Homo sapiens: one gene and its partners. The protein of the gene in region 7 interacts with the protein of the main gene of each other region in a biochemical or structural test. Each region holds a gene or a part of one and is shown on either strand. Other genes may lie near its edges. The genes, in order: CLDN8, SLC22A9, LDB3, GOT1L1, FZD4, ABCA7 and PDZK1.

The links.
Region 1: the proteins of PDZK1 (region 7) and CLDN8 interact in a test that uses a peptide from one of them, tested with the Homo sapiens proteins (one large-scale study listed by IntAct).
Region 2: the proteins of PDZK1 (region 7) and SLC22A9 interact in a test that uses a peptide from one of them, tested with the Homo sapiens proteins (one large-scale study listed by IntAct).
Region 3: the proteins of PDZK1 (region 7) and LDB3 interact in a test that uses a peptide from one of them, tested with the Homo sapiens proteins (one large-scale study listed by IntAct).
Region 4: the proteins of PDZK1 (region 7) and GOT1L1 interact in a test that uses a peptide from one of them, tested with the Homo sapiens proteins (one large-scale study listed by IntAct).
Region 5: the proteins of PDZK1 (region 7) and FZD4 interact in a test that uses a peptide from one of them, tested with the Homo sapiens proteins (one large-scale study listed by IntAct).
Region 6: the proteins of PDZK1 (region 7) and ABCA7 interact in a test that uses a peptide from one of them, tested with the Homo sapiens proteins (one large-scale study listed by IntAct).

The regions. Positions count from the first base shown.
Region 1 is NC_000021.9:30,213,506-30,217,309, reverse strand, and holds CLDN8 (claudin-8), read left to right. Parts: upstream 1-1,212; 5' UTR 1,213-1,384; coding exon 1,385-2,062; 3' UTR 2,063-3,304; downstream 3,305-3,804.
Region 2 is NC_000011.10:63,376,285-63,379,784, reverse strand, and holds part of SLC22A9 (organic anion transporter 7), read right to left. Parts: intron 1-3,500. UniProt on the Homo sapiens protein: Sodium-independent organic anion transporter, exhibits high specificity for sulfated conjugates of xenobiotics and steroid hormones such as estrone 3-sulfate (E1S) and dehydroepiandrosterone sulfate (DHEAS).
Region 3 is NC_000010.11:86,731,011-86,734,510, forward strand, and holds part of LDB3 (LIM domain-binding protein 3), read left to right. Parts: intron 1-1,876; coding exon 1,877-1,966; 3' UTR 1,967-3,500. UniProt on the Homo sapiens protein: May function as an adapter in striated muscle to couple protein kinase C-mediated signaling via its LIM domains to the cytoskeleton.
Region 4 is NC_000008.11:37,937,325-37,941,378, forward strand, and holds the start of GOT1L1 (putative aspartate aminotransferase, cytoplasmic 2), read right to left. Parts: upstream 2,801-4,054; 5' UTR 2,706-2,800; coding exon 2,591-2,705; intron 1,558-2,590; coding exon 1,376-1,557; intron 426-1,375; coding exon 314-425; intron 63-313; coding exon 1-62.
Region 5 is NC_000011.10:86,945,396-86,948,895, reverse strand, and holds the end of FZD4 (frizzled-4 precursor), read left to right. Parts: 3' UTR 1-3,217; downstream 3,218-3,500. UniProt on the Homo sapiens protein: Receptor for Wnt proteins.
Region 6 is NC_000019.10:1,050,107-1,053,606, reverse strand, and holds part of ABCA7 (phospholipid-transporting ATPase ABCA7), read right to left. Parts: intron 2,687-3,500; coding exon 2,555-2,686; intron 2,453-2,554; coding exon 2,313-2,452; intron 2,159-2,312; coding exon 2,021-2,158; intron 1,666-2,020; coding exon 1,481-1,665; intron 1,394-1,480; coding exon 1,321-1,393; intron 279-1,320; coding exon 76-278; intron 1-75. UniProt on the Homo sapiens protein: Catalyzes the translocation of specific phospholipids from the cytoplasmic to the extracellular/lumenal leaflet of membrane coupled to the hydrolysis of ATP. Transports preferentially phosphatidylserine over phosphatidylcholine.
Region 7 is NC_000001.11:145,704,569-145,708,579, forward strand, and holds the start of PDZK1 (Na(+)/H(+) exchange regulatory cofactor NHE-RF3), read right to left. Parts: upstream 2,801-4,011; 5' UTR 2,749-2,800; intron 2,256-2,748; exon of another isoform or gene 2,096-2,255; intron 1-2,095. UniProt on the Homo sapiens protein: A scaffold protein that connects plasma membrane proteins and regulatory components, regulating their surface expression in epithelial cells apical domains.

The DNA of each region.
Region 1 (3,804 bases), on a different chromosome or scaffold from region 7:
CTCCCATATTTGGATTTAAGGTAGTCCAATGAAACAGAGAGAAAGTAAAACTGTAAAGAGAAAATCATTTTTTATGATGTTAAGAAGAAAAGAAAATGAAGTGGCAGCTTAAACTTTGGAAAGATCAGACAGAGAGCTTAAGGTGATCTCCAGAAGAAAATTGCTAGTCGAATTTTCTCAGATAAACATTTATGCTTAGTATAGCACTACTGTTAGAGCATCATTATTTTGAGAAGAAAGTTCAAATTGTCTTGCGTTTAGGGGTTTCTATGTCCTACTGCAGACATAATATTAAAAGGTAGGAAAACATATTTGGTTAATACCTAATATAATACAGTTTGGTAAATATAGTTCCCTTGTCTTGTAAATATCTTATTTTGAAATATCAGCCATTTGTATAGGCCCAAGGGTCTTGTGTCATCTTCAGAATTCTAGTTCCTTCAGCCCAGGAATTCAAAGCAGCAAGAATAACACCACAAAATAAGCTCATAAGCTTATTTTAATGCTATAGTGCTGGATACATAAGATAATCATCTGGTGATTTTTATTTTGGCAAAAAATGTTTTTATAAGTGAAGATTATCAGAAAAGTGTCAATGAGTATTTTTTCTGGCTTAAAGAACTCCAATATGTTTTCAGTGCCAAGGAGAAGGACAGCCTTGTGTATTTAATTACTTTAGCTTATTTTGTCCTCTGGCATGATCTGTTCCCTGATTTCACCACAGTAGAGCTTGCTTTGAAGTTGTAGAAAAATTAAATCAATCACTTGGATCACATGTGTCCCAAAGAATGTGGCTTCCCAGGTAAAAGCAATCTTTCAATCCCCTACTCTCGTTTCACTTTGGCATTTCAACAGCGTTGCAGAATTCTTCGGCAGATAATTTATTTTATCCCTTGGTCCCAGCAGCTCTTATTAAGAGTTTCAGAATTGCCTGTACAAGGTGCACCTTTCACATTACAAGGGATCGGCTCATTTCTTGATGCTTATGCAACCACTTATAACTATGCCTACAGGTAAACATACTGCTGTCTTCTTGGAAGACCGAGAAGTATAAAGAATGTTTATGTGCAGGTCTAGCTGTTCCAAGTACCCAAGTGTTGGTTTAGACACACCTGGATTACCATCCACCTTTTATTGGCTGAGAAAGTTGCCACACCTGATTTGTAAGTTTACCTGTTGCAGCCAATAGCAGGGCCATCTCAGCCAGCCAGCACTGGATACTATCTGGCCAGAAGTAGCAAAGCAGCTCTTATTTGAAAAACCACTGGGTTCCGAGTTCATTACTACAGGAAAAACTGTTCTCTTCTGTGGCACAGAGAACCCTGCTTCAAAGCAGAAGTAGCAGTTCCGGAGTCCAGCTGGCTAAAACTCATCCCAGAGGATAATGGCAACCCATGCCTTAGAAATCGCTGGGCTGTTTCTTGGTGGTGTTGGAATGGTGGGCACAGTGGCTGTCACTGTCATGCCTCAGTGGAGAGTGTCGGCCTTCATTGAAAACAACATCGTGGTTTTTGAAAACTTCTGGGAAGGACTGTGGATGAATTGCGTGAGGCAGGCTAACATCAGGATGCAGTGCAAAATCTATGATTCCCTGCTGGCTCTTTCTCCGGACCTACAGGCAGCCAGAGGACTGATGTGTGCTGCTTCCGTGATGTCCTTCTTGGCTTTCATGATGGCCATCCTTGGCATGAAATGCACCAGGTGCACGGGGGACAATGAGAAGGTGAAGGCTCACATTCTGCTGACGGCTGGAATCATCTTCATCATCACGGGCATGGTGGTGCTCATCCCTGTGAGCTGGGTTGCCAATGCCATCATCAGAGATTTCTATAACTCAATAGTGAATGTTGCCCAAAAACGTGAGCTTGGAGAAGCTCTCTACTTAGGATGGACCACGGCACTGGTGCTGATTGTTGGAGGAGCTCTGTTCTGCTGCGTTTTTTGTTGCAACGAAAAGAGCAGTAGCTACAGATACTCGATACCTTCCCATCGCACAACCCAAAAAAGTTATCACACCGGAAAGAAGTCACCGAGCGTCTACTCCAGAAGTCAGTATGTGTAGTTGTGTATGTTTTTTTAACTTTACTATAAAGCCATGCAAATGACAAAAATCTATATTACTTTCTCAAAATGGACCCCAAAGAAACTTTGATTTACTGTTCTTAACTGCCTAATCTTAATTACAGGAACTGTGCATCAGCTATTTATGATTCTATAAGCTATTTCAGCAGAATGAGATATTAAACCCAATGCTTTGATTGTTCTAGAAAGTATAGTAATTTGTTTTCTAAGGTGGTTCAAGCATCTACTCTTTTTATCATTTACTTCAAAATGACATTGCTAAAGACTGCATTATTTTACTACTGTAATTTCTCCACGACATAGCATTATGTACATAGATGAGTGTAACATTTATATCTCACATAGAGACATGCTTATATGGTTTTATTTAAAATGAAATGCCAGTCCATTACACTGAATAAATAGAACTCAACTATTGCTTTTCAGGGAAATCATGGATAGGGTTGAAGAAGGTTACTATTAATTGTTTAAAAACAGCTTAGGGATTAATGTCCTCCATTTATAATGAAGATTAAAATGAAGGCTTTAATCAGCATTGTAAAGGAAATTGAATGGCTTTCTGATATGCTGTTTTTTAGCCTAGGAGTTAGAAATCCTAACTTCTTTATCCTCTTCTCCCAGAGGCTTTTTTTTTCTTGTGTATTAAATTAACATTTTTAAAAAGCAGATATTTTGTCAAGGGGCTTTGCATTCAAACTGCTTTTCCAGGGCTATACTCAGAAGAAAGATAAAAGTGTGATCTAAGAAAAAGTGATGGTTTTAGGAAAGTGAAAATATTTTTGTTTTTGTATTTGAAGAAGAATGATGCATTTTGACAAGAAATCATATATGTATGGATATATTTTAATAAGTATTTGAGTACAGACTTTGAGGTTTCATCAATATAAATAAAAGAGCAGAAAAATATGTCTTGGTTTTCATTTGCTTACCAAAAAAACAACAACAAAAAAAGTTGTCCTTTGAGAACTTCACCTGCTCCTATGTGGGTACCTGAGTCAAAATTGTCATTTTTGTTCTGTGAAAAATAAATTTCCTTCTTGTACCATTTCTGTTTAGTTTTACTAAAATCTGTAAATACTGTATTTTTCTGTTTATTCCAAATTTGATGAAACTGACAATCCAATTTGAAAGTTTGTGTCGACGTCTGTCTAGCTTAAATGAATGTGTTCTATTTGCTTTATACATTTATATTAATAAATTGTACATTTTTCTAATTATTTGACATTCTTTCACAAGTCTCCTTTTGTTTCTGTTTTATTAACTTGTAGAAGAATGTTGAAAAGCCTGATAATTTTTTATTCTCCAAATTGAGAAAGAATGTCAAGATTTGCCTTGTAAAGACAAACAGTGCATTAATTTTTGAAAATATAAAGTACTCTATGTTATTTATGTTATTTAACAACAATATACCTTATAATCATTGGATCCCTATACCAATATTCAATGCAGATAATATATTTATAATTTAAGATAGTACTATAAATTCAAGCAAATCTATATGTTATAAATATTATGTATATAACAGCCAGGTTTGAAAAATTTTCTGTAGCTAAATATATATTTCTACTTCTGAGAAATAATAAATAATATTGTCTAATGTTCTGGGGGCATGTATTACATGCTAGGACCTCTACTGCTTATATGAATTGTTATTAAATCTTTTATGAGACTGATAATGTTATTAGTTCAATTCAAAGATGAGGCTATCTCAGAACAATTCAT
Region 2 (3,500 bases), on a different chromosome or scaffold from region 7:
ACTCCAGCCTGGGTGACAGAGTGAGACTCCATCTCAAAAACAAAACAAAACAAAACAAAAACAACTGTTTGTTCATGTGCTTTGGCCATTTTTTATGGGCTGTCTGTTCTTTTTTAATTTGTTCATGTGCCTTATAGATTGTGAATATTAGGCCTTTGTTGGATGAACAGTTTGCAAATATTTTCTCCCATTCTATAGGTTTTCTGTTTACACTCTTCTTTATTTACTCTGTTGAAAACTTTTGTGGAAAAGCTCTTTAGTTTATTTGGTCCCATTTGTCAACTTTTGTTTTTGTGGCAATTGCTTTTGGAGTCTTTGTCATGAGACCTTTGTCAGGGCCTTTGTCCAGAATGGTATCTTCTATGTTTTCTTCTAGGATTTTTATAGTTTTAGGTCTTAAACTTAAGTCTTTATCTTGACTTGAGTTTTGTATATGGTGAAAGGAAGGGGTTCAGTTTCAATCTTCTGCATATGGATAGTCAGTTATCACACCATTGACTGAATAGGGAATCCTTTCCCCATTGCTTGTTTTTGTCGACTTCATTGATGAACAGATGGTTGTAGAGGTATGGCATTATTTCTCAGTGCTCTAGCCTATTCTATTGGTCTACCTTTCTGTCTTTGTACCAGTACCATGCTGTTTTGGTTACTGTGTTCTCGTAGTATGGTTCAAAGTCAGATAGTGTGATGCCTACAGCTTTGTTCATTTTGCTTTGGATTGCTTTGGTTATTCAAACTCTTTTTTTTTGTTCCATATGAATTTTAGAATAGTTTTCTCTAATTCTATAAAAAATGTCTTTGGTAGTTTGATAGGAACAGGATTCAGTCTGTAAATTGCTTTGGGTGTATGGCCATTTAAACAATATTGATTCTTCATATCCATGAGCATGGAATGTTTTTGCATTTGTTTGTGGTCATCTCTGCTTTCTTTCATCATTGCTTTGTAGTTCTCATTGTAGAACTCTTGCCTCCCTAGCTAGCTATATTCTTAGGTATTTTATTATTTTGTGTTTATTGCGAATGAGATTACATTCTTGATTTGGCTCTCAGCTTTAACGATGTCAGCGTATAGAAATGCTACTGATTTTTGTACATTGATTTTGTATCCTGAAACTTTGCTAAAATTGTTTACCAGATCAAGGAGCTTTTGGGCTACAACTACAGGGATTTGTATGTATAAGATCATATTGTATGTGAAGAGAGATATTTTGACTTCCTCTCTTCCTATTTTGTGGCCTTTTCTTTCTTTTGTCTAATTACTCTGGCTAGGACTTTGAGTACTATGCTTAATAGAATTGGTGAGTGTGGACATCCTTGTCTTGCCTGGTTCTCAAGGGGACTGCTTCCAGGTTTTGTGTATTCAGTATGATCTTGGCTTGGGTTTGTCAATAGATAGCTCTCATTATTTTGAGGTATGCTCCTTCGATGCCTAGTTTGTTGAGGGTTTGTAATATGAACGATGTTGAATTTTATTAAAAGCCTTTTCTCTGTCTATTGGGTTGATAATGTGTTTTTTGTTTTTAGTCTGGTTTTTCTTTTTTTAAAATTTTTTTCTCTGCCAGGTTTTGGTATTAGAATGAATCTAGTCTTGTAGAATGAGTTAGGAGTCTCCCTGCCTCAATTTTCTGGAATAATTTCAGTAGGATTGGTACAAGCTCTTCTTTACATGTCTGGTAGAATTTAGCTGTGAATCCATGTGGCCCAGGGATTTTTCTAGTTGACTGGCTTTTTATTACTGATTCAGTTTGGAAACTTGTTATTGGTTTATACAGGGTTTCAATTTATTTCTGATTCAATATTGGGAGTTTGAATGTTTACAAGAATTATCTATTTCTTCCAGGTTTTCTAGTTTCTGCGCATAGAGGCGTTTGTAATAGTCTCTGAGTGTTTTTTGTATTTCTGTGTTGTTGGTGGTAATGTCACCTTTGTCATTTCTAATTGCATTTATTTGAATCCGCTCTCTTTTTTTCTTTATTAGTTTAAGAAAGTCTATCCATCTAATGTGTTCTTTCAAATTACCAATCTTTGGTTTTGTTGATATGTATCTTTTTTACATCTCAATTTCACTCAGTTCAGCTTTGAATTGGTTACTTCTTCTTTTCTGCTAGCTTTGGGTTTTGTTTGCTCTTCTTTTTCTAGTTCCAATAGGTTTGAGGTTAGGTTGTTAATTTGAGATCTCTCAAACTTTGTGATGTGGGGATTTAGTGCTATAAGTTTCCTTCTTAACATGTGTTTAGCTGTGTCCCAGAGATTCTGGTATGTTATATCTTTGTTTTCACTAGTTTGAAAGGTTTTCTTGATTTCTGCCTTAATTTCTTTATTTATCCGGAAGTCATTCAAGAGAAGGTTGTTTAATTTCCATGTAATTTTATGATTTTGGGAGATCTTCTTCATATTGATCTCTCTTTTATTGTGTTGTGGTCCAGGAGTGTGGTTGGTTTACTTTCTTTCTTTCTTTCTTTTTGAATTTGCTGAGGATTGTTTTATGGCTGATGTGTGGTCAATTTGAGAGCATGTGTCATGTGCAGAGGAGAATAACGTATATTCTGCTGTTGTTGGGTGGAGTGTTCCTTAGATATCTGTTAGGTCCATTTGGTCAAGTGTTGAGTTTAGTTCCTGAACATCTTTGTTAGTTTTCTGTGTCTATAATCTGTCTAACACTGCCAGTGGGGTGTTGAATTCTCCAACTATCATTGTATGATTTATCTAAGTCTCTTTGTAGATTTCTAAGAACTCGTTGTATGAATCTTCGTGCTCCAGTGTTGGGTGCATATATATTTAAGATAGTTAAATCTTATTGAATTGAACCCTGGATCATTATGTAATTCTCCTTTTGCCTTTTTTGATCACTGTTGGTTTAACATCTGTTTTATCTGAAATTAGAATTGCATCCCTTGCTCTTTTTTTGTTTTCCATTTGCTTGTTAGATTTTTCTTTATCCTTTCACTTTGAGCCTATAGGTGTCACTGCATGTGAGTGTCTCTGGAAGTCAGTATACAATTGGGTGTATTTTTTTTTTTAATCCAACTTGTCACTCTGTGTCTTTTAAGTGTGATGTTTTACATTTAAGGTTAATATTAATATGTAAGGATATTAAGAGGCTTGCTCTTAATCCTCTCCTTTTTCAATAAAATGGGAGAAAATGTATTTTTATTGTTCCAAGTAGCATTCTTTCCTTTCCCATATCATTTCCAATATTTGGATTTAAATCTGTCCATTGATATTCTCTGTCATAGCAAAAGCTTCATTCAGGTAGTTACCTTGACTTATTCTGTTATTCATGATCTAGTATCATTTGTGCATACCACATTTTAAGATTAATACTTTATATATGTGTATAACATGGATAATATTTAACTTAAAGATCCATGACAACATTTATCTTTAAGATCTGGGGTGGATTAAAATGAGAAAGACTTCTCACAGGCATTTCCACTTAGTCATGCTTTAGGAACTTATAGTAAGTAAGTATAATGAAACTCCAGACAAATAGGGATTTG
Region 3 (3,500 bases), on a different chromosome or scaffold from region 7:
TGAGTATGGTGGTGGGCGCCTGTAATCCCAGCTACTAGGGAGGCTGAGGCAGGAGAATTGCTTGAACCCGGGAGGCAGAGGTTGCAGTGAGCTGAGATCGCGCCACTGCACTCCAGCCTGGGTGACAGAGTGAGACTCCATCTCAAAAAAAAAAAAAAGAATTTCATCTCTTTTGTTTTTTTGTATATTTCTCTGCATACTTTTCCATATCTACCTTTTTTTTTTTTTTTTTGAGACGGAATCTCGCTCTGTCGCCCAGGCTTGGGTACAGTGGCATGATCTCAGCTCACTGAAACCTCCGTCTTCCGGGTTCAAGTGATTCTCCTGCCTCAGCCTCCTGAGTAGCTGGGATTACCAGTGCGCACCACCACACCCGGCTAATTTTTGTATTTTTAGTAGAGACAAGGTTTCACCATGTTGGTCAGGCTGATCTCAAACTCCTGATCTCGTGGTCCTCCTGCCTCGGCCTTCCAAAATGCTGGGATTGCAGGCGTGAGCCACCATGCCTGGCCCATCTCTCTTTTTAAATGGTGGCATTCCATTGGAAAAATACACCATGAAAATTTACTGAATCATCTTCCTATTGAGAGAAATTTTACTAGTTTTCAGTTTCTAGTTGAGCACAGGTTGTTTTGTTGTTCTGCAGAGTTGCTTCTGCAGGATAAAATTCTCTAGCGTGGCATTACTGGGTTACAGGGTAGTCACATCTCAATGGTTCTTGTTCAACATGGCCAGATTCCCTATGGAACACTGAGCTCACTCACATGTCTCTAGCAGTGCACGAGTAGGCCTTGTTCCTTTTTGGCATTGCTGATTTTTGATTGAATACTTTTTTTTTTTTTAAGCTTTTTGGCTACAGGCATATTAGGTTAAAGGTGACAGGCCATTGAGGTTTTTTTGTTTTATTTGTCTTGCTAGATTAATATGTGTCTAGTGGTATCTCAGGGCAGTTTTTCTTGTAATTTTTTTAACTAATTTTCTTTTCTTTCTTTCTTTTTCTTTTTTTTTTTTTTTGGTAGAGACAGAGGCTCACTATGTTGCCCAGGCTGGTCTCAAACACCTGGCCTCAAACGATCCTCCTGCCTTGGCCTTCCAAAGTGTAGGGATTACAGGCATCAGCTACTGCGCCTGGAGTCAGGGGAGTTTTAATTTGCTTTTTCTTTAATTATTAGTGAGTACAATCTTCTCTGATGTGTTTGTTAGTTTACTAATGATTTTCTTTAGACGTGAATCCTCTCTGTGGTATATTGACTTGTGAACTTGTATTGACTCTATTCATGCTATTTTAGATAGCATGAATTGGTCAGCTTCATAGTGTATATTTTCTCTATTCCATTAAATTTAATTAATTTCATTTGATTTTATTCTGTTCTTCAGGAATCTTAGTTTTTATATAGTCCAACTCATGTACTCTGCTTCCGTCATTAAGAATTCATAGTGGGAGAAATAGGCTGTTGCCTTTTCTCTAGAATGCATGGGGCAAGGCTGTTTGTTTGTTTGTTTGTTTGCTTTAGACAGTCTTGCTATGTTGCCCAGGCTGGAGTGCAGTGGCACAATCACAGCTCACTGCAACCTCTGTCTCCCGGGTTCAAGAGATTCTTCTGCCTCAACCTCCCGAGTAGCTGGGATTACAGGCACATGGCAACATGCCCCTGGCTAATTTTTGTATTTTTAGTAGAGATGGAGTTTCGCCATGTTGGCCAGGCTGGTCTTGGACTCCTGACCTCAAGTGATCTGCCTGCCTTGGCCTTCCAAAGTGCTGGGATTACAGGACTGAGCCACCACGCCTGGCCAGGGCGTTTTCTTAAAAAAGTGATTGAAATCTGCTCATGCCCTGTGCCACGTGGGTCTCACGCAGGTCTGTTCTCTGCTCCAGGTCTGCCATGTGAATCTGGAGGGGCAGCCGTTCTACTCCAAGAAGGACAGACCCCTGTGCAAGAAGCACGCACACACCATCAACTTGTAGGCGGCCAAGGCCGCCTGTGCTGACGAGGCCCGGAGCTGCTCCTGCTGCTGGCAACAAAGGATTCGGGAGGCTGATGTTTCTTCTGAGGGGAATGGGGAGAGAGAGGAAGCGACTGAGCCCTTTGGAAGTATAATTTTAGGTTTTTTCTTCTGTACACAGATCGTGCATTTGCATAGTTCAGACTAGGAGCCAAATGAAGACTCAAAACCAAGCTAGTTATTAATCCAAGACTGGAATTGTACTTCAGACATTTAGAGCAGAATTCCAAGAACTCAAAAGTGAAAAGCAACAAGCAGCTTTCCCAAAGCGATACACTTGCTTTGGTCACCAGAGGAGGACAGAGCTTAGAGCAGCTGTGGAGAATCTGAAGCATTCTGCGGAGTTCTTAAGCGCTCCCCTGGCAAACAAATTGAAGTGCCAAACAGCACTCGCTGCAGGGTATTTTTAGAGTCATAGCTGAGAGCTTGTTAGCTAAGACCCATTGGGCTTTCCTCACCAAAAAAGGAAGTGTTATTCCATTACTAGCGTCATGGAGCTACCTCTGCGCATCAGACTTCAGACCTTGAACAAACTTAAAACCTTCTTGGGAGCCCGGACGTCCAAAGAGATGTCTTCTGGGAGCCACTGGGCAATTGCCAGGGCTCCAGGAAGGGCTCTGGCTCAGGTTGCAGACAGCTGAGAAAAGATGGCCCTGTCAGCCACCCTCTCTCAGTCTGAAACATCCAACATCCCCAGAAGGCTTAGCTCCTTTTTGAATTGTGATGGGAAAGTAGAGTTGGGTTTTTCCAGTTTTGCTCTGTGGTGTGTGAGAGATTTTTTTAAAGGCTTTGGGTTGTCTTTGGCCTTTGTTTAGCTTTAAGGGTTCGTTAGCATGAGTGTCCAGTCGTGTGCATGAATTTCACCCCAACTTGTGACTGCTCACTTATGACGTCTCCCCCAGTACCCTCCATCTCAAATAGGCTTGGTGGCCTGTGGAAAAGAAGAGAGACAGAGAGACAGTGTCTGAAACAGGATGGCAGAATAGGCTCACATGCCCAAACTCTGGGTGGGGAAGAGGAAACTTACTTTCTGCCACCCTCAGTAAGAACACACGAGGAGGCAGGACCTCCCACCTTCAGGTCTGCATCATCCTTTTCAAATGTTCCTTTAAATGCAGCACACTGAGTTTGTACAATTGTGTTAACTGCTGGAAGGGACAGATGCACTGATATATATGCATTTGCTGTTTTGGCCAATATTTTGAAAATGTATGAGCTGAGTTGATCTAGCTATTATTTAAGTATTTATTGAAGTAGAGGGGCCTTCAAACTACTTTATACTAGTGATAGTTTGAGTTAGGTAAGCATCTTAAAGCTGTTTGGTGATAAAGAAGGCAGCTTAGATTCTGTGGTTGGAAACAGTGTAGTCGCTTCCCTTTTTAGGAAGCCCTGTTAATATGCTCATTGAAAACATGGCATTGAAGCAGGCACTTGCGTGGATGTTTCTCACTTGAGCACGATATTTAGGCTCTCTTCCAACTCACTCTATTCTGTCC
Region 4 (4,054 bases), on a different chromosome or scaffold from region 7:
GTCCCAGACAGAGTATTCATAAACTGTAAAGCCCATGTCCTGGAAGACGAGTCCATGCAGTTCTGTGGGAACACAGCCCCCCACTAGCTGGTACATGGGAAACAGAGAGACGGAGACAGAGGTACTGGAGTGTGGGGCTGAGAGTCACTGGCTGAAGGTGGGACATTAACAGGAAAAGGACATAAATAGCTTGGCTTGTCTGCCATTTTGCTCATGACAGAGAATGAGGGATAACAGTGAAGATGGCAAATGGGGTGAGGATTAGGAACAAGGGACGGGGATTGCTGTTCCCCTCATCTTGGGTAAGACTAACCTTTTTGAGAAGAGATGATGTAAACTATACGAGCATCCTTATGCCAAGCTCTGAGAAACTGGACGCCAAGCTGGAAGGCACCACTGTCACCAACAGTGTGTACACCCCCTACCTGCCAGCAAGACATAGACACAAATAGGCCAGGTGTGGTGGCTCACACCTGTAATTCCAGCACTTTGGGAGGCTGGGGTGGGTGGATCACTCGAGGTCATGGCCAACATGTTGAAACCCCGTATCTACTAAAAATACAAAAATTAGCCGGATGTGGTGTTGGGCATGTGTAATCCCCGCTACTCAAGAGGCTGAGGCAGGAGAATCACTTGAACCCGGAAGGCGGAAGTTGCAGTGAGCGGAGATCAGGCCACTGCACTCCAGTCTGGGTGACAGAGTGAGACTCCGTCTCAAAAAAATAATAAGTAAATAAACATTAAAAAATAAAAAGAAATAGACAGAAATAACACTCTAAAACAGTAATGGAGGCGAGACGCAGTAGCTCATGCCTGTAATCCCAGCACTTTGGGAGGACGAGGCAGGGAATCCCCTGAGGCCAGGAGTTTGAGACCAGCCTGGCCAACATGGTGAAACCCTGTCTCTACAAAAAATACAAAAATTAGCTGGGCGTGATGGCACATGCCTGTGATTCCAGCTACTCAGGAGGATGCAGCACCAGAATTGCTTGAACCTGGGAGGTGGAGGTTGCAGTGAGCTGAGATGGCACCACTGCACTCTAGCCTGGGTGACAGAGTGAGACTCTGTCTCAAAAAATATATATAATAGGTTAAAAAATAAAACAGTAATGGGAATACTAACACCACCTCCAATTCAGATCATTCCTGTCTTGAAAGAGCTTTCAAATCAGCAGTGTGAGCAGGTGGGAATACCACTGGACTGAGATTCCGATCCTGACTCGATGGCTAAGGACTTGTGGACTCTCTGAGCCTCAGGTATCTCTTTTATCAATACCAGGGGGCCCTCCGAGGTCCCCTTCGGGTTTAAGGTTGTGCAGACCCAGATCGCCACTCTCTGTGTCTAAATGAGCCAGGGGAGGGCCCACCTTCTCACCCTGTTCTCCACAATGGCTTGGCTGTGCTTTCCAAAGAGGAGTGCTAGAGAGGCCTGGATGAATGATTTCAGGCCCATGGTGGGCAAGTACTCATAATTCAGGGAGGGATCCTGTGAAATCTGTAGTCGAGTCTTCTGCACCACGAGAGAAACCCAGGGATGGCCTTCATTTGTCATGCAGACTGTGAGGAAAACCACAGAGGGAGCTCCAGATGCCTGGTTTGGGCCCCCAGGGCTGAGCTCTGCAGACAGCCTGCAAACAAATCTCTCCTGGACTCCATGGGGCTGTGGGAAGGTGCCTGTGAAAATACAACTTTCCCTTTTCTTTTCTCCTTGATGAAAAGAATATGCTGTTAGTGAATGTGTATTATTTTTGTCTTTTTAAAAAAGACAACTGAAACCTATGCCATTTTAAAGGTTAAAAATTATACAAGCCCAGGATTGGTGGCTCAGGCCTGTAATCCCAGCACTTCGGGAGGCTAAGGTGGGTGGATCACTTGAGTTCAGGAGTTCAAGATCAGCCTGGGCAACATGATGAAACCCTGTCTCTACAAAAAAATACAAAACAGCCAGACATGGTGACCAGCGCCTGTAGTCCCAGCTACTCAGGAGGCTGAGGCAAGAGGATGGTTTGAGCCCAGGAGGCAAAGGTGGCAGTGAGCTGAGATCTTGCCACTGCACTTCAGCCTGGGCAACAGAGTGAGGCCCTGTCTCAAGAAAAAAAAAAAAAAAATATATATATATATATATATATATATATATATATATATATATGCAAAATGAGAGTTATAGGTAGATGAAGCTAAATAAAGGTAACCCTGACTTTCACAGTGGTGAGCCCCAGTTGCATAGCAGAAAGCTCAATCTGGAGAACCATTCTTGGTTCAAGAACAGGAAGAGAAAGAGAAAGAGAGAGAGAGGAGGTAAGAATCTGAAGAAGTGTGGGATGGCCATGCAGGCCCCCAAGCATAGAGTTGTGGAAGAGGACATAGCTCTCACCAAATCCCTAGAAGCCCCCAGAGAAGGGCAGAGAGCATGGAATGACCTGGGACCTTATCTGCACTTTTCCCCACTGGGTAATTCTGTTAACAAGAAAAGATCTCTCCACCCACAGAAGCTTGGGCTGCACCCCTCCCCCTGCAGCAGGGAACACTGTCCTCCTAGAGGCAGTTACCATCACTTAAGTCTTATACTTCAGAACTGCTAGGCATCTACCTCTATAGGCTAAGAATATCTTGTTCGGGTAATCATCTTGTTTGTAGGTCTTTAACAAGCTGCCCTCTAGCTTGTGGGCGAGGGGCACATCCATGAACACTGAAAGGGTGGGCATAACTGAAACGAAACTGGAGCCAAGACTATGTGTCTCTGCTCCTGTGTTCCGCTTCTGCCCAGAAGTCTTCCTCCAAGGCTGGGCCGGGCAGTCCTGCCTCTTCCTGGAACCTTGGCAGCCCCAGTGCAGAGGCGCTGGACAACGGGTTGCCAGGGCAACAGAACCTCATGATCTTTGTGGTGGCGATCCACAGGGGCCACAGGAACATTCCAGGGTACTTGAGGAGAATCCCCTCAGACAGCGGGCAGGGCAGGATAACAATCTCCGGAATTCCCAAGCCCGTTTCCCTCACTCAATGCCTTCTCTTCTCTAGCCCCAGGTGGCTCAGTCCAAAGTAACAAGCCCACTCCTTAGATGACAGGGCAAGGATAATGGGAGATTACTTAACAGATACAATGTACATTGTTGGGGTTATGGATACCCTAAAAGCCCTGACTTCACCACTATGCGATGTATGCATCTAACAAAATTACACTTGTACTTCACACATTTATACAAATTAAAAAAAAAAAAAAGAAAGAAAGACATAGGGCAAGGCAGGCAGCCAATAAGCCAGATAGGGCTTCTCCTGCAGAAGCAAAAACCCCAGATCACACACCAATGCAAGTCGAGGCATTGATTTCCATTTTGCAAAGTGCCCCAGATTTCAAAAGGAATAAAAAGCAAACACTGTTTTCTTCCACAGTTGTTTTAATAAAGAATCCTATTATTAGAATATAATTGGCAACTCACTAAGCCAGTCCTATTTCTCTCAGTTATCTAGAGCCAAGACTTCTACATATGTTTGTTAAGTTTCTTTTTCTTTCTTTTTTTGGTTTTTTTTTTTTTTGAGATGGAGTCTCACTTTGTCGATAGTCTCGAACTCCTTGCCTCAGGTGATCTGCCTGCCTTGGCCTCCCAAACTGCTGGGATTACAGGCATGAGCCACCACACCTGGCCATTTGTTAAGTTTCAATGACAGCCAACTAGTAAGTATAGACAGCAGAGGCCAAGGGGAGAAAAGAGCCAGCCTCTATAGAGTCAGTCTGCATATTGCTTGCTTTCTTTTCCTTTTGATGTTTAATGACTCTCTCTTTTTTTTTTTTTTTTTTTTTGAGACAGAGTCTCGCTCTTGCTGCCCACATTGGAGTGCAGTGGTGTGATCTCGGCTCACTGCAACCTCTGCTTCCCAGGTTCAAGAGATTCTCCTGCCTCAGCCTCCCGAGTAGCTGGGATTACAGGCATGCGCCACCACACCCAACTAATTTTGTATTTTTAGTAGAGAGGGGGATTTCTCCATGTTGATCAGGCTGGTCTCAAACTCCAGACCTCAGGTGATCTGCCCACCTGGGCCTCCCAAAGTGCTGGGA
Region 5 (3,500 bases), on a different chromosome or scaffold from region 7:
CTCTGGCCCAGGCAGGGGAAGGAAGACCAGGCGGTAGGGGACTGGTCTTGCTGTTAGAGTATAGAGGTTTGTAATGCAGTTTTCTTCATAATGTGTCAGTGATTGTGTGACCAAGGCAGCATCTAGCAGAAAGCCAGGCATGGAGTAGGTGATCGATACTTGTCAATGACTAAATAATAACAATAAAAGAGCACTTGGGTGAATCTGGGCACCTGATTTCTGAGTTTTGAGTTCTGGAGCTAGTGTTTTGACAATGCTTTGGGTTTTGACATGCCTTTTCCACAAATCTCTTGCCTTTTCAGGGCAAAGTGTATTTGATCAGAAGTGGCCATTTGGATTAGTAGCCTTAGCAATGCTACAGGGTTATAGGCCTCTCCTTTCACATTCCAGACAATGGAGAGTGTTTATGGTTTCAGGAAAAGAACTTTGTGGCTGAGGGGTCAGTTACCAGTGACCTTCAATCAACTCCATCACTTCTTAAATCGGTATTTGTTAAAAAAATCAGTTATTTTATTTATTGAGTGCCGACTGTAGTAAAGCCCTGAAATAGATAATCTCTGTTCTTCTAACTGATCTAGGATGGGGACGCACCCAGGTCTGCTGAACTTTACTGTTCCTCTGGGAAAGGAGCAGGGACCTCTGGAATTCCCATCTGTTTCACTGTCTCCATTCCATAAATCTCTTCCTGTGTGAGCCACCACACCCAGCCTGGGTCTCTCTACTTTTAACACATCTCTCATCCCTTTCCCAGGATTCCTTCCAAGTCAGTTACAGGTGGTTTTAACAGAAAGCATCAGCTCTGCTTCGTGACAGTCTCTGGAGAAATCCCTTAGGAAGACTATGAGAGTAGGCCACAAGGACATGGGCCCACACATCTGCTTTGGCTTTGCCGGCAATTCAGGGCTTGGGGTATTCCATGTGACTTGTATAGGTATATTTGAGGACAGCATCTTGCTAGAGAAAAGGTGAGGGTTGTTTTTCTTTCTCTGAAACCTACAGTAAATGGGTATGATTGTAGCTTCCTCAGAAATCCCTTGGCCTCCAGAGATTAAACATGGTGCAATGGCACCTCTGTCCAACCTCCTTTCTGGTAGATTCCTTTCTCCTGCTTCATATAGGCCAAACCTCAGGGCAAGGGAACATGGGGGTAGAGTGGTGCTGGCCAGAACCATCTGCTTGAGCTACTTGGTTGATTCATATCCTCTTTCCTTTATGGAGACCCATTTCCTGATCTCTGAGACTGTTGCTGAACTGGCAACTTACTTGGGCCTGAAACTGGAGAAGGGGTGACATTTTTTTAATTTCAGAGATGCTTTCTGATTTTCCTCTCCCAGGTCACTGTCTCACCTGCACTCTCCAAACTCAGGTTCCGGGAAGCTTGTGTGTCTAGATACTGAATTGAGATTCTGTTCAGCACCTTTTAGCTCTATACTCTCTGGCTCCCCTCATCCTCATGGTCACTGAATTAAATGCTTATTGTATTGAGAACCAAGATGGGACCTGAGGACACAAAGATGAGCTCAACAGTCTCAGCCCTAGAGGAATAGACTCAGGGATTTCACCAGGTCGGTGCAGTATTTGATTTCTGGTGAGGTGACCACAGCTGCAGTTAGGGAAGGGAGCCATTGAGCACAGACTTTGGAAGGAACCTTTTTTTTGTTGTTTGTTTGTTTGTTTGTTTGTTTGTTTGTTTGAGACAGGGTCTTGCTCTGTCACCCAGGCTGGGGCGCAATGGCACGATCTTGGCTCACTGCAACCTCTGCCTCCTGGGTTCAAGTGATTCTCCTGCCACAGCCTCCTGAGGAGCTGGGACTACAGGTGCGTGCTACCACGCCCAGCTACTTCTGTATTTTTAGTAGAGACGGGGTTTCACTGTGTTGGCCAGGCTGGTCTCGAACTCCTGACCTCATGATCTGCCCGCCTCAGCCTCCCAAAGTGCTGGGATTACAAGTGTGAGCCACCACACCTGGCCTGGAAGGAACCTCTTAAAATCAGTTTACGTCTTGTATTTTGTTCTGTGATGGAGGACACTGGAGAGAGTTGCTATTCCAGTCAATCATGTCGAGTCACTGGACTCTGAAAATCCTATTGGTTCCTTTATTTTATTTGAGTTTAGAGTTCCCTTCTGGGTTTGTATTATGTCTGGCAAATGACCTGGGTTATCACTTTTCCTCCAGGGTTAGATCATAGATCTTGGAAACTCCTTAGAGAGCATTTTGCTCCTACCAAGGATCAGATACTGGAGCCCCACATAATAGATTTCATTTCACTCTAGCCTACATAGAGCTTTCTGTTGCTGTCTCTTGCCATGCACTTGTGCGGTGATTACACACTTGACAGTACCAGGAGACAAATGACTTACAGATCCCCCGACATGCCTCTTCCCCTTGGCAAGCTCAGTTGCCCTGATAGTAGCATGTTTCTGTTTCTGATGTACCTTTTTTCTCTTCTTCTTTGCATCAGCCAATTCCCAGAATTTCCCCAGGCAATTTGTAGAGGACCTTTTTGGGGTCCTATATGAGCCATGTCCTCAAAGCTTTTAAACCTCCTTGCTCTCCTACAATATTCAGTACATGACCACTGTCATCCTAGAAGGCTTCTGAAAAGAGGGGCAAGAGCCACTCTGCGCCACAAAGGTTGGGTCCATCTTCTCTCCGAGGTTGTGAAAGTTTTCAAATTGTACTAATAGGCTGGGGCCCTGACTTGGCTGTGGGCTTTGGGAGGGGTAAGCTGCTTTCTAGATCTCTCCCAGTGAGGCATGGAGGTGTTTCTGAATTTTGTCTACCTCACAGGGATGTTGTGAGGCTTGAAAAGGTCAAAAAATGATGGCCCCTTGAGCTCTTTGTAAGAAAGGTAGATGAAATATCGGATGTAATCTGAAAAAAAGATAAAATGTGACTTCCCCTGCTCTGTGCAGCAGTCGGGCTGGATGCTCTGTGGCCTTTCTTGGGTCCTCATGCCACCCCACAGCTCCAGGAACCTTGAAGCCAATCTGGGGGACTTTCAGATGTTTGACAAAGAGGTACCAGGCAAACTTCCTGCTACACATGCCCTGAATGAATTGCTAAATTTCAAAGGAAATGGACCCTGCTTTTAAGGATGTACAAAAGTATGTCTGCATCGATGTCTGTACTGTAAATTTCTAATTTATCACTGTACAAAGAAAACCCCTTGCTATTTAATTTTGTATTAAAGGAAAATAAAGTTTTGTTTGTTAGGTTGTGTGTGACTTGGCATATTTCTGAAAGTATATGACAGCCACTAGGAAGCATATACACCCAGCAGTGAGAAATAGAGGATTCAGTTTGTAGGGCAGATTGGGAACTGCTTTCTGAGGGCCTCTTTCTTTTTTGCTGGGGCTCTTTTTCCCCTGTGGGATTTCTCCTGCGTCAGCAAACCCCCACAGTCTAAGGTCAACAGAATTGATTGCTAATATGGTCATCAGTAACACTCAAGTAGGTCACATGATGCTTTGGATATAACTATAGTTCTCAAGTTGT
Region 6 (3,500 bases), on a different chromosome or scaffold from region 7:
TTCATCCTTCAAAACACCACCTCCTCCAGGAAGCCCTCCTCCTGGCCCCACCTCACCACCACCCAGGCCTCACACCTCCTCGAGGCTGGTGTCGGAGATCCCGTAGCCAGTGAGCCTCAGCTCCGCCAGCCGCGTGTCTAGCTCTCGGAAGAGTGTGGCGAAGCTGCCGTCATGGGCACCCGTGTAGGGCAGCACCAGCACCAGCTCGTGTGGCAGCTCCTCCACCAGCCGTGCCCCGGGCACCCAGTGCTGTACCAGGGCCAGCAGCTGAGGAGTGCCTGTGTGGACAAAGGGGTGCTTCAGGGAGCCCCGGCTCACGCCCCACCCCAGTCTCCCTGGGGAAGAGGCATTGGTGACCTGTGAGGGGACTGTCCCGGCAGACAGAGATCAGGGTTAAGAACGTAGGCCAGGTGCGGCCGGGCGCAGTGGCTCACGCCTGTAATCCCAGCACTTTGAGGGTTGAAGCAGGCAGATCACCTGAGGTCAGGAGTTTGAGACCAGCCTGACCAACATGGTGAAACCCCATTTCTACCAAAAATGCAAAAATTAGCCAGGCATGGTGGAACCCACCTGTAATCCCAGTTACTCGAGAGGCTGAGGGAGGAGAAATGCTTGAACCCAGGAGGCAGAGGTTGCAGTGAGCTGAGATCACACCACTGCACTACAGCCTGGGCGACAGAGCAAGACTCAGAAACAAACAAAAAGAGATCTTGAGGGCAGTGCTGGACCTAGTGTTGGAGGTCAGGGGTAGGTTTGTCTCTGGGCTCAGCCCTGGTTGGGTTAAAGGTGGGGTCAGTGTTCAAGTTAGTCTCATGGTTCCGGCTCAGCCCAGGGATGGGGGCATCATCTCAGGTTCTCAAGTGCTCTCCTCCTCCTCTCCTTCTCCTCCCCCTCCTCTCCCTCCTCCTCCTCTCCCTCCTACTCCTCCCCCTTCTCCTCCCCCTCCTCTTCCTCCTACTTCTCCCCCTTCTCCTCCCCCTTTCCCTCCCCCTCCTCCTCCCCCTCCTATTCCTCCCCTTCTGCTCCCCTCCTACTCCTCCCCTTCTTCTCCCCCTCCTCCTCTCCCTTCCCCTCCTCCTCCCCCCTTCTCCTCCCCCTCCTCCTCTCCCTCCCCCTCCTCCTCTCCCTCCTACTCCTCCCCTTCGCCTCCCCTTCCACCTCTTACTCCTCCCCCTCCTCCTCCCCCTCCTCCTCCGCCTCAACCTCCTCTGCCGCTTCCTCCCCCTCCTCCTCCTCTTCCCCCTCCCCCTCCTCCTCCTCAAGTTAAGGCACAGCCACCCCACTGCCCACCCGCCTTGGGTCTCCCACCCCGGCCCTCACCGACTCTGCTGCCCTGGCTGCCATTCTTCTTTTCCTGCCTGGTGTCCACACTGCCCTCCATGTCAGTGTCAGCCTGCGGGCAGAGAGGCACCAAGTGGCTTGGCCTTCAGGGCTGAACAGAGTCCCGGGGGTCAGGGGTCAGGAGAAGGCCGGTCCCCACCTTCTCATTGGTGGTCAGGGGCAGGCGGGCCTTCACCAGCGTCAGGTAGTAGCCGGAGCCCAGGTGACGGCGCAGGAAGAGTGGGGAGCCACAGCAGCACAAGCGGCCACCTGCCACCACGGCCACACGGTCTCCCAGCAGCTCTGCCTCATCCAGGTGGTGGGTGGAGAGGATCAGCGTGCGACCTAGGCACGGGGGACCAACCCACAACTACCATCAGGCCGCCGCGTCTTTGCCCGAGCTGGGGCCTCTGCCAGGAGTTGTCTGCCCCATGAAGCAAACTCCTATTCATCCCTCAAAACCTCATCCCCAGAACCTCCTTGTTGGAAACCTTTTCTGGCCCTTCAGGCAGAATCCAGGGGAACCTCTGTCTATCCCCAACTCTTACTGTCTCGGTATTTGAGCAGTAGCCCCTAAATGCCATAGCAACAAGTGGGGTCCACATGTAGCAAACTCCTACTCATTCCTCAAAACCCCATCCCCAGCACTTCCTTGTCAGAAGCCTTTTCTGGCCCCTCGAGCAGAATCCCCAGCTCTTACCTTCTCGGTATTTGAGCAGCAGCTCCCAAATACCGCGGCGGGAAGCAGGATCCACGCCAGCCGTAGGCTCGTCCAGGATAACAACTTGGGAGCCGCCCACAAAGGCAATGGCCACGGACAGCTTCCGTTGCATCCCACCTGGTAGAGATGGGGAAGGGACCTCAGTGTGTCACACCCAGCCTTGGGCAAGGTTGCCTACCCACGTGGACCTCAGTACCCGGCTTCCCCCTGCCTTCAGGATGAATCCCCAGGCCCCTCCCTGTGAGGTGACCTCCCTTGGGGATGGGCTCACCAGAGAGGTGGCGAGTCTGCACACTCTGCTTGGAGACCAGCCCCACATCCTGCAGCAGACGGTCCTGCTCGGGGCCCACTACAGCGGCACTCAGACCCTTCAGCCGCCCATAGAACCAGACGTGCTCGTCCACGGTCAGCCTGCGGCCAGTGCACAGAGCAGAGTGACCCACATGGCAGGCAGAGTCCCAGAGGGCGTCCAGTCCCTTCCCACCGCTGCACTCTGGGCCTGCCGAGACGCACATGTCAAACAGCACGTTGTACTGAGGACAGACGCCCAGGTGGGGCCGGATGGCGGCCATGCTGGAGCGGACGTCGTGGCCCAGGATGAAGGCAGAGCCACCACTGGGTGGGAAGAGGCCACTCAAGATGGACCTGTGGATAGAGGGGTCTCAGAGTAGCCCCCTTCACAGAGTGCACTGGCAGTTACAGAGCTTCTATTTTTAATTTCTGTTTTTAAAAAATTTTTAATTATTTATTATTATTATTATTATTATTATTATTATTATTATTTTTGAGACGGAGTTTCACTCTGTTGCCCAGGCTGGAGTGCAGCGGCACGATCTCGGCTCACTGCAAGCTCCACCTCCCGGGTTCACGCCATTCTCCTGCCTCAGCCTCCCGAGTAGCTGGGACTACAGGCGCCCGCCACCATGTCCGGCTAATTTTTTTGCATTTTTAGTAGAGACGGGGTTTCACTGTTTCACCATGTTAGCCAGGATGATCTCAATCTCCTGACCTCGTGATCCACCCGCCTCGGCCCCCCAAAGTGCTGGGATTGCAGGCCTGAGCCACCACGCCTGGCCACAGAGCACCTATTAAATGCTACATCCAAAACCCTGTGATAGCCTTATTTTTATTTATTTGTTTATTTTTATTTTTTTGTGACAGAGTCTCACTCTGTTGCCCAGGCTGGAGTGCAACGGCACAGTCTCGGCTCACTGCAACCTCCGCCTCCAGGGTTCAAGCAGTTCTCCTGCCTCAGCCTCCTGAGTAGCTGGGATTACAGGTGCACGCCACCATCACACCCGGCTAATTTTTGTATTTTTAGTAGAGATGGTTTTGCCATATTGGCCAGGCTGTGTCTCAAACTCTGACCTCAGGCAATCCTCCCACCTCGGCTTGCCCAAGTGCTGGGATTACAGGCGTGAGCCACCACTCCCGCCCTATTTATTTTGAGACAGGGTCT
Region 7 (4,011 bases):
GACAAGGAAATAGAAGCTTAGAGAGCCTGATCTAGAGTGCAGGTTTCCAATCCCAGTGCTCATTTTCTTAATCACTTAGCCATGATACCCATCAGGCAAAGAGATTAAGGAAATCTGGGCAGTCCCTCATGAAGGACCAAAGAAAGAAGTTGCTGAGATCTTGAGGAAAACACGTCTAGCTCCAGCTTGCCACTCTCATTGCATCCCTATGCAACGAATGCAAGAATCATTTCACTAAGAAGTGACCAGAGAAACCCATTCCCATATGATTAGACCCTGGACTTCAGATGCCCTGAGAGAGGATTGGAGTCCTTCAACCTCCTTTCCTGAGGAACACCTCATCAAAGCCATCGCCATCTGCATCTATTCTTCTAGCTCCTTCCCTGCCACACTAATTCCATTTATGCAAATATGTTCTATGCCAGGTAGTGCTCAAGGGGCTGGTAATACAGCAAGTAACACAAATGACAAGATCCCTGCAGTCTTGAAGCTTAACATCTGGCAAAGGTGACAAGTAAAAGAGATGATTTTTTTTTTCTCGAGATGGAGTCTCACTTTGTCACCCAGGCTAGGGTGCAATGGCACAATCTTGGCTCACTGCAACCTCCACCTCCCAGGTTCAAGCAATTCTCCTGCCTCAGCCTCCCAAGTAGCTAATACTACAGACAGGCAGTACCACGCCCGGCTAATTTTTGTATTTTTAGTAGAGATGGGGTTTCACCATGTTGGCCAAGCTGGTCTTGAACTCCTGACCTCAGGTGATCCACCTGCCTCAGCCTCCCAAAGTGCTGGGATTACAGATGTGAGCCACTGCACCCAGCCCAAATGAGATGATTTCTGATGGTACACGCTGTGAATGATAGAGATACTGGTGGCATGGAGGTGGGAGGCTGATTTAGAAAGTCCTTCCTGGGAGGTGACATTTTAATTCATACCCCAATGACAAGGAGCTACCCTTCAAGGCTCCAGGATCTACCTTATACTTGGCCAACTGAAAAAGACATTAATGATGATCTGGTCTCAACTTCTTATTTGTAAGTGAGCAAACAGAGGCTCAATGAGATTAAAAGACTAGGACAAGGTTTCCCAAGTGACTGCAATTTGTTTCTTCTTACTATTCTACAGAGACTTTCGATATACACATTTGAAATCTAGGCATCTTACATCGTGTTTTTAACATATTCATGGTTTTTTGTTTTTTAGACAGGATCTCAGTCTGTCACCCAGGCTGGAGTGCAGTGATGCAATCACGGCTCACTGTAGCCTCGACCCCCTGGGCTCAAGCAACCCTTCCATTTCAGCCTCCCAAGTAGCTGACACCACAGACACATGCCACCATGCAGGATTAATTTATTATTATTTTTTGTAGAGACGGGGGTCTCACTTCATTGCCCAGGCTGGTCTCGAACTCCTGGCCTCAAGTGATCCTCCCGCTTGGGCATCCCAAAGTGCTGGGATTACAGGCATGAGCCACCATGCAGGACCACACATTTGTACTTATAATTTTATTTTCAGTACACTCTTGGGGAAAAGATGACAGACCTTCACTTGATCAATAATGAAATTGAGGCTCCAGTTGGCTAAGTAGTTTGTCTAATGGCCTGTCACTAGCAACTGAATCAAAACTCTGATGATTTGTATTCCAGTCCTATGTTCTTTCCCCTGGGGGAGAAGTAGCTGCCTAGCCAGTGGTCTATGAATATAAGACATCATTACCAGCAACTTCACACCCTATGGTGCAGAGAACATACAAAAGTCAAAGATAAGCACAAGTTACTATCATAACACAGAAATTCAAAGACCCTGAGTAATTTGCTGCAGACTTCAGATGACTGGACAATCATGGCCTGAGGCAGTCCCTGCTACCCCCTCTTGCCTTCTAGATACAAGACTGAAAGCTGCCCTGGTGACACATTGCAGAGATTTTAGTAAATAAAGAAGAATGTGTTTCTCAGAGCCAACGCCCAAATCTTCATAGCTGGACCCAACCCAGACCAGGAGTCTTCATAGCGAGTGAACCCTTAGGTAAGTGTCATACTTAAGTCTCATGAGTCTTCTGCTTAAGAAATAAACTACTAGTGGTTCCCAAACCTACCTGCACTGATCAGAATGATTCTGGGAGAGTTTTCAAATAAAGATCTTTCAATTCACACAAGGCCTGGAGACTTAGAAATGCCAAAGGTGAGAGCCTGGGGAATGTATGTTTTAAAATTCAGCCAGCCTGGAAATCCACTGGTTTTTCTCATGTCTTAGTGCTGCAGTGTGATACAGAGAGGAAAGATGCCTGCTTTTATTATCTAGTGGGCAAGCTAAGTTAGGCTGCATCCTTTAAAGGCTGCTTCCAGAAGAGTCTTCTCTGCTACCCAAGGCCCCTGTATCAGTAGGAAGGTCCCGGGCATATCCGCCTGGTTACCTGTGAAGTCAGTTGTCTCACTCCCTTTGGCTGCACATCAAACCCCCACACAACCCCGGGAAGGCTTTTTCTGAGGTCGGTTTACCAATTTCTTTGTGAAGCAGACCCTAGCCTACAAAGGTGAGGGGCATCTCCAGCAGAAAGAATCTCAGAGCGTGGATCATCTCTCACCCCCAACCACCGCCAAAGGGGCCTGGCTGCCTCCCCATGGGACTCTTCTCTGCCCTAGACAGCCAGCTACTGGCTTGGAAAAAGAAAAAGGGAAAAGGAAAAGAAAGAAGGTAGTTCAGGCCCCGGTGGCCAGCACCCTCAAGGAGGACACGAGCAGTTCTTACCTGGAGATGGAAGAGGAGCTGCTCTGTTCGTTCACTCAGGAATTCTGTCTCTGCAGGTGAGCATTAAGCTTGCAACTCACTGGACTTTGAACAAAGATTGATTTAAAAGCTAATGTATTTAACAGGGACATGTGGTCTGAATTCAAGTGACCTCTGTCCTGCTTCCTGCCAGCTGGCTGGGCCCTGAGCTGGAAAATCTGACAAACCTCAGCAAACCAAAAGCTCTGGCCCACCTGCCTGGCCCTGCGGGGAGGCCGCTGCTCGCCAGCCACTCCCAGAGAACAAGGAGGGGAGAGGGGGTGAAGGACAGCCAGGGAGGAGGTGCCTCCGCTTTCCTTGGTACTCTCCCTTTGGCAGATACCTTGGTTACACCCAACCAACCCCCAATCCTGTTAGGATCCTCCAGTCCCCCATCCTGGGGTCAGGGCCGAGGCTCATACAGGAGTATCCTCAATCACTGAGGCCTCCCCAAGGAGCAGTAGCCTATAAAACTCCCACCCACGAGGCCAGTAAGCCCCAGGAAATGGGGCCAAGCACTCAGGGCACCCATCCTGCTTCCCTCTGCCCTGGATTCTCACTTGTGTGCTCCCTAGGAGTTTAGCAAGCAAAGCCCTAGAGCAAGCAAAGCCCTTGTTCTTGTGTCCCAGGCTTCCTTCTTCTTATCCACTCTCTCCCCTCTCTTTTTTTCTTCTCTTTCTCACCTGATGGTGCTCTTTCTATTCTCCAGCCTAGCGATAATTGTCTTCCCCTTCACACACTCAGAGCCTCTCGGGCAAGCCCAGCAGGGTAGGTGGAAGGCATTTTTACAAACCCCTCCATCCTGCTGCCTTGCTGCCCGAGCAGTAGGCTGGTGCCCGTGTGCTCAGCCGCTAGCCCTAGCCATGATCAGCAGCTGATCCCTATCAGCAGCACCCACACAGACAATTCTATCACTGGCCTTCTCACTGACCTGAATCCTCAGCCCACAATGCAAATCAGGGCAAGAGATTGCTCCCGGCACTGAGGCAAAGCAAACCACAGGCCGAGGACTGGGTGACCTCACCCCTCTTCCACCCACACTGGAAGAGCCATTTGTCTTTGCTGGGCCTTGGCTTGGCCCCCAACAAAGACATGACCTGAGCCCATGGATAAACGGTTTAAAATGACATTGAGCAGCTTCCTCATACCAGCTTATCTTCCTCCACCTCGGGGCTAAGCCCTCCTGGCCTCCTCTATATCTTTCAAAGCAGAAGGTAGAATGGGAAAATCTGGATTTAGGATCAG